2 linked regions of the Homo sapiens genome follow. The protein of the gene in region 1 purifies or fractionates together with the protein of each later gene. This does not show direct contact. Each region holds a gene or a part of one and is shown in the gene's direction. Other genes may lie near its edges.

Evidence for each region. Proteins that work in one complex are often made in the same cells at the same time.
Region 2: the proteins of GOLGA8A (region 1) and LTF purify together in Homo sapiens (affinity purification with mass spectrometry; one large-scale study listed by BioGRID and IntAct). This does not show direct contact.

The regions. Positions count from the first base shown.
Region 1 is NC_000015.10:34,378,786-34,382,437, reverse strand, and holds the end of GOLGA8A (golgin subfamily A member 8A), read left to right. Parts: coding exon 1-52; coding exon of another isoform or gene 53-107; intron 108-186; coding exon 187-287; exon of another isoform or gene 288-369; coding exon 370-470; intron 471-581; coding exon 582-737; intron 738-824; coding exon 825-1,027; 3' UTR 1,028-3,370; downstream 3,371-3,652. UniProt on the Homo sapiens protein: May be involved in maintaining Golgi structure.
Region 2 is NC_000003.12:46,447,887-46,451,538, reverse strand, and holds part of LTF (lactotransferrin isoform 1 preproprotein), read left to right. Parts: intron 1-865; coding exon 866-1,044; intron 1,045-1,510; coding exon 1,511-1,685; intron 1,686-2,521; coding exon 2,522-2,676; intron 2,677-3,652. UniProt on the Homo sapiens protein: Transferrins are iron binding transport proteins which can bind two Fe(3+) ions in association with the binding of an anion, usually bicarbonate. Lactoferricin binds to the bacterial surface and is crucial for the bactericidal functions.

The DNA.
Region 1 (3,652 bases):
CGAGAAGGAGCCAGAGGCAGCAGTCCCAGCCTCAGGGACTGGGGGCGAGTCTGTGAGTGGGGAGACCCTCCGGGCCCTGCAGGAAGTCATGGAGAAGCTGGAGGGGAGTGAGTCCTAGCATGGGCCAAGAAGGGCAGGGCTGGGGCAGGTCGCTGCTGAGATGTGACCCCATTATTTTGGCTCCAGAGCGGCCTTATGGACCTCCTGGAGGAGAAGGCGGACCTGAGGGAGCATGTGGAGAAACTGGAACTTGGATTCATCCAGTACCGGAGAGAGAGATGCCATCAGTGAGTGGGAGGCCAGGGCACGGCAGGGGGAGCTGCAGGGCTATGGGAGGGGCCCCAGCGTCTGAGCCCTGTCCTCCCGCAGGAAAGTACATCGCCTTCTAACAGAGCCAGGGGACAGTGCCAAAGATGCGTCACCGGGAGGAGGCCATCATCAGGCTGGCCCAGGACAAGGAGGAGAGGAAGGTAGGGTGTGCAACATCCCTGTGGGGGTGGGGGTGGGGTGGGGGTGTGGGTGGGGTGGGCATGAGGGTGGGCGCCAGCAGCGGCCTGACAGCTGAGCACCCGTCCCTTCAGGTGAAGCTGCTGGAGCTGCAGGAGATGGTGTTGCGGCTTGTGGCAGCTACAGCGAGGGGCACGGCAAATTCCTGGCCGCTGCCCGGAACCCTGCTGCTGAACCCAGTCCAGGAGCCCCAGCCCCCCAGGAGCTCGGGGCTGCCGACAAGCATGGTGGTGAGTAGAGCCCCCAGGCGGGGTGAGCAGGCAGGAGCGGGGGGCGGCTAGCACTCCACTCAGATCCCCGCCTCCCTCTCTCCAAAGATCTTTGTGAGGCGAGCCTCACCAACAGCGTGGAGCCTGCACAAGGAGAAGCCAGGGAGGGTTCTTCCCAGGACAACCCTACTGCACAGCCAGTCGTGCAGCTCCTTGGTGAGATGCAGGACCACCAGGAGCACCCAGGCTTGGGCAGCAACTGCTGTGTGCCATGCTTTTGCTGGGCTTGGCTGCCGAGAAGAAGGAGATAAACACCACCATCATCAAAGAGCTGCTCAAGAAATTTTTAAAAACGAAACAAAGTTATGGGGTTAATCTCCTACACAATTCATTTACTTCATTTGAATGTTAGAGCTACTCATGATTATTTGTGTTTCTAATTTATAGTTTAAGTTTATTTGTAAAAAGTTAAAAGAGAGTGGGTCTCTGTGGCTCTCACTGATGTTCACTCTGGCATCCTTCAGCATTTTTCTTTTTTCATTTCATAATTGTAGGTCATTAGCATGCATATCGAGTTTGCCCTTACGTGGTGGGAGTTCAAACACACAAAGACCCACTCTTTGCACAAAACTGTTCTCGCTGGTTTGGAATAGGCTCCCGTGCTTTTCTAATGTTATTGCAGCATGGATGTCCATTACAGAATTCAGATAAAATTTGCTAATGTTCTGCTATGATGTTTGATCTCATCTTAATCACAGTGAGCTCTTCTATAGCTCAATATGCGGTTTGCCCTCAAGTGTGCACTGTTTATTACTTTGTAATATGCCACTGTGAGTACTGACATTTAGAGCTGTTTAAAGGCCGAGAACTGGAAACAGCCTTTCCTCCATTTTCTGTGTATTGGTGATGGGAGTGATAACCTTTTGGGGGAGCTTTCTAAATCTCACAGAAGAGGAAAGTGGCCTGCTCTGGCAGGTATGTGCAGGATACAGTGTGTTTCATCTGTTCCGGTGCCAAGAATGAGCAGTGTACTGTGGCAGTTCCCTTTGGATTTGTATGTGCTCTGGGCTCATGAAGATATTGCATCGTGAGCTGCAGCAGTTGCACTCTTTTTCAGTGACCTAAAAAGGGCTTATTTCCGAGGAATGAAAGGCTGCCATCATTGGCTGTGGGTGTGAAAAACCTTTCCTAGCTTAGAGCATTTGTATCTACAATACATTTTAAAGTCAGAGTTCGTGTTCCCTGTTTTAATCACATGACTACCTGTCCCAGTACACGAAAGGGCGCTGGTTGGCATTCTTCTTAATGTATTTAGTGAAGATCATAAGAAATCCTTTAAGAGTTTAAATGTCTCTGAAACAGGCATACAGGCTCTAGTCAAGAATGAATTAGAGTGAAGGAAAGCTGTGTGACACCTGGCATTCCTCTCTGTTCATGGAGCTTCTTTGAGGCTTGAAGTTTGATTTTACTATCTAGACCTCTCTGGCTAATACCTATTCTTCAACCACCTCGGTTACTCTGACATAGGAATTTACTTCTTTTCCTTGAGTGGAAAACACTTTAGAAAGTAATAACAAACATTATTATAAACTAATATATGTGAGAGTACTTAGTTGAAACAAAAAGGAATTTTAGTAGACAGTATTATATTATCTTTGAAAATCAAGGAGAAGTTTATGCAACTTAAAATGTTTACACACTGTGGTGCAATCTACTGTTTGTGAATGTCTGTATTATCAGGAAACATGTCTATACGATCGCAGAGTTGTATTTCCTCACAAACTTCTTTACGAAGAGTGAAATACGTTTTTGTACCTCTCATTTTCAGTCAGGGACATACTTTGTGCAATATTTCTGTGATTGTGCCTATGCATGATGAATGAATGCATTTCAATCATACATTGCCTAAATCATAACTTGATGATGCTTGGGAAAGAATCAACAGTTAAAACTTCATGAAGTTCTAATGTCTGTGTTCCAAAACACATCACATTATTAGGTTGTAGGGAGATATGTAGGTGTGCTCCCTGGGGTGGGGAGTTTTCTAGTTACTAGACCATCTCCATTTTTAGCACTTGGCAGCCTCATGATCCTTTTATAAATGTGAGATTAACAGGAGAGCAGCAATACGATTTTGCCAATGGAATAACAGATTTGCCGGCATTCACTGAAAGAGGGCAGATATTGGGTCCTTGTAACTTCAACTGACTCTTCCAAATTGTATGAATTTATCAATGTATTACACAAATCCAGTTTCAGAATGATAAAAAATGTTAGACCAAATAATGCGGCTAATTAACAGTCGTATGATTTCTAGCCCATGGGTTTAAAACTGTATCTTAAAGAGTCATTTTAAAATAATATAAATATTAAAAAATGTAACTGCTATCTTAATGTTCTGAAATAAAACATTTTAAAATATAAATCCTGTAGTTTAAAAGGAAGAAATGGTGGGAAGGAAAAGTAGAGAAAGAAATGCCAATTCCAGGCCAAAGCGTTATTTGCCAAGTTTTCTTAGAATGAATTTTACCAATGTATGAGTTCTTGTTAACAGAATGTGTAACGGAAATACTGAAAGACTTTTGCTTAAAGTGGCATTATTGACTGCTGATGTGATGCTACTGTAATGCAATAAATTTTTAAATTGTTGCAAAGTGCTGTTTTTGCCTTAAAATTTTATTTTGCGTGTCTTGAAAACTATAGTATTAAAAGTATTGATATTGTGCAAATACTGGGCATGCTTGGCATGAGATAATCTGTTTCATTGTTACAAAAATGTAGTATAACTATGCAAGTGTTTATTGAAAGAACACAACATAAAAAAGGTATGGGATTAAAAAAGTTTTGGGGTGAAAAAGTTATCGGATAAAAATGTAAAAAAGTTGTGGCAAAAAGTAGAAAAAAGTTTTCTGAAAAGTTATCATGGAGCACGGTGG
Region 2 (3,652 bases), on another chromosome or scaffold:
TAGATGTTGAACACATAAACAATCGTTCTGCATCTATTAAGATGAAGACGATCTCATGGTTTTCTGCCATTAAATGCAGATTACTTTAGTTTTTTTGATGTTCAGCCATTCTTTTGTTAATGGAATACACTGGTAAACCTTCATTCCAATCTATTAGCTTTTTAAATACTCTGTGAGATTGAGTTAGTTAGTACGTTATTTACAAATTTTGCATTTATGTTCGTAAGTAAAATAAACTTTTAATTCTTCCCTCCTATACTTTTTCTGATTTTGACATCAAGGTTGTACTAATCTCATAAAATGACTCGGGCAAGATTTTTTTCACTTTACACATTCTGAAGCAACTTATATATGATATTCCACATTTGCCTGAACTCATTCATAAAACCATTCTTCCCCTTCTTTTGATATACTCAGTGTTGGAAAGTGTCTCACCTTCCTGCCTTATTCCCTGCCTTGTTAACATTTTTGTCATTTTTATTCTTCCCAGAGATGTGAGTAAGGGAGCAACCCTTGGTGGCCCCCTGAGCTTGTCTCTGCAAAGTGACTTTTCCAGGCAGAGATGCCGCAGAAACAGACGGGTCTGGTTTGGCCTCTCTGGCCTGCCAGGCAGCAGCTGCACGGGAACCCCAGGGTGGCCTAAGTGATTTAGGATGAGGATCACACCTCGGCTGCCCCCTGAGGCTTTTGGGGCACTACCTTTACCTTTCTGAGTGTTCTGGAGCAAACCCCTGCCTTTCTGACCCTCAGTTTTGTCAGCTATCTCCCCAAGCTCAAAATTCTATAGGGAGAAGGGGAACTATAGCTCGAGGTTACTGCTGGAGTCGGCTTATCTAGACTCCCTCCCACCTCACCTTCCCTGCAGAGGACCTGTCAGACGAGGCTGAAAGGGACGAGTATGAGTTACTCTGCCCAGACAACACTCGGAAGCCAGTGGACAAGTTCAAAGACTGCCATCTGGCCCGGGTCCCTTCTCATGCCGTTGTGGCACGAAGTGTGAATGGCAAGGAGGATGCCATCTGGAATCTTCTCCGCCAGGCACAGGTATCTTCACCCACGGTCCTCCCCACTTGCTTGGATATGGGGGGCAGGGAGCAAGGTTTCTTACTTCCCTGACTTCTGCCACTCCAGAAGTCCTGTAGCTTTGCTGCAGGATAGCACACTAATGCATTGGGCTGCTTGCCCAGGCTGTACTGTGGACAGCAGAAGCAATGAAACTCTTCTGTCACACGGGCTGACAGCGTCTTATGATGGGAGCAGAAGCAGGGGGTGGTCGATGCAATCTTCTCAGGGCCCTAAGGTGCTTGGACCTCAGCAACTCTTCAAAGAATGAGCCATAGCTGAGCTTGGGTCTCCGAGATGGCACAAGTCCCTCTGCAGGAGGGTCTCAACCGAGGCTCCTGCTCTCAGTTAGAATGATCCCAAAGCTCCAGATACTCTTTTTTAACATCATTTTTTTGTTTCCTCCCTATTTACCATTGACACCATAATTCTATTTTTTCTTAATTAGGAAAAGTTTGGAAAGGACAAGTCACCGAAATTCCAGCTCTTTGGCTCCCCTAGTGGGCAGAAAGATCTGCTGTTCAAGGACTCTGCCATTGGGTTTTCGAGGGTGCCCCCGAGGATAGATTCTGGGCTGTACCTTGGCTCCGGCTACTTCACTGCCATCCAGAACTTGAGGAAAAGTGAGTGAGCCCAGGAGGGTCCTGAGGTCCGCCTGGTGTGGTCTTCTACTTCCCAGCAGGTGGCCCTACTTTGTGGCGGTCACTCCTTTTCCCAGACACTGTGGGGTCATCGTGGAGGTTTGATGCAGGTGTGAGTGTCTTCTGTGGATTAGGTCAGGTGTCTCTAAAAGAATAGTCTGGCCACCTGATCAGTGCACGTCAGGCTCCCCAGGCCTGGCAGAAAAATCAGTTTGCCTCCTATTAAGTGAGAAACATGAACATGAACAAAGATAGCCAGGACCCCTCCTGGATGAATCCGGGGGCCTGGATTTACCCACACTTCCCAGGCCCAGACCTTGAACTTAGTTGGGGACACCATGGTGGGGGAACTCAGCTATGGCTCCTTCTCTACTGGGGGGCTGGGGGTGGGAGTCTGGGGGAACCCAGAGGCTGCACCGTAGTTATTGGTGGTGATTGCAGGCGTTAGGGGAAGTCAGGGTTGGGCTCAAGGTCCCCTAGGCCATCTCTTGGGACTGTCACTGGTCTCTGGGTCATGGAGCGTTTATCCTCAGAGACAGAGACAATAGGCGCCTCCTGACTCTAAAGATTAATGGATAGATTAGAAGCCAGGGAACTTCTCCAAAGGAACAGAAGTGGGAAACACAGGGAGCTCTGTGGACCTGAAGAAGGGGCTTGGAGCTGAGAAGTGGAGGAGGAGAGGGTATGGGTCCACATGTCCACACATGTACTGTAGCTCCTGTTCCAGGGAGAGTCTGGGCAGGACCCTGGCTCTGGGGAGGTTGGACAACCTGGCAAAGCTCAGGTTGCCCAGCCACCTGCGGTCTTCCCTCTGGCAGGTGAGGAGGAAGTGGCTGCCCGGCGTGCGCGGGTCGTGTGGTGTGCGGTGGGCGAGCAGGAGCTGCGCAAGTGTAACCAGTGGAGTGGCTTGAGCGAAGGCAGCGTGACCTGCTCCTCGGCCTCCACCACAGAGGACTGCATCGCCCTGGTGCTGGTAGGGAGCTCCATCACAGGGGCGGGCGGTGGGCCCGGTGGAAGACCTAGGGCCTGGGCATCTGCTTAAAGTGAAGTCAACAGTCAAAGAGGCCACGGGGGCCTGGGTGAGGCAGGGATGCCTGGAGAGGTGTGCTCAGGGCCAGAAAGCATTTTAGTTTCAAAAAGCAGTTTACTGTGGGTTTCCCACTCCTCTGGTTATAAGAACAACTCAGGATTATTATAAGGAATTTGGAAAATATGGAAAGGTATTATGTTAAAACAAAACAACAACAAACCCCCCAAACCACCTGTGATCTCACACAGAGGGACAGACATGGTTAAAGTCTGGCTAATTCTCCATTCCAGTATTTCTCTGCACATCTGCAGATATGCATGCAACAATAATGAAGTGTTGCAGTATGTCGTTTTTAAGCCCTTTTCACTAAACAGCGTATAATGGGCATTCTTCCACATGAATATTTACTCTTGGAAAGCATTAATTTTTTTTTTTTTAAGAGACAGATTCTTGATCTGTCACCCAGGCTGGAGTGCAGTGGTGCGACCACATCTCACTGCAGCCTGGAACTCTTGGGCTCAAGTGATCCTCCCATCTCAGCTTCCCAAGTAGCTGGGGCTACAGGCATACGCCACCACACCTGCATAATTATTATTATTATTATTGTAGCGACAGGGTCTCGCTTTGTTGCCCAGGCTCGTCTCGAACTCCTGGGCTCAAGCAATCTTCCTGCTTCGGCCTCCCAAAGTGCTGGGATTACGGGTGTGAGCCACAGCACTCGGACGAAAACATTTTTTAAACATGCTTCCAGGATATCTTTTATGTGAATATGGCTCAGTTTAGTCATGCCCCCATTCCTCTTTGTCCCTTACTTTGCTATTATCAATAACCCTGTGGTGAGCATTCTTGAGTAGAAATCTTTGTCCACTTCTCTATTTTTAATATAGTTGTAAAAATATTACTGGGTCAAAGAGGAAGT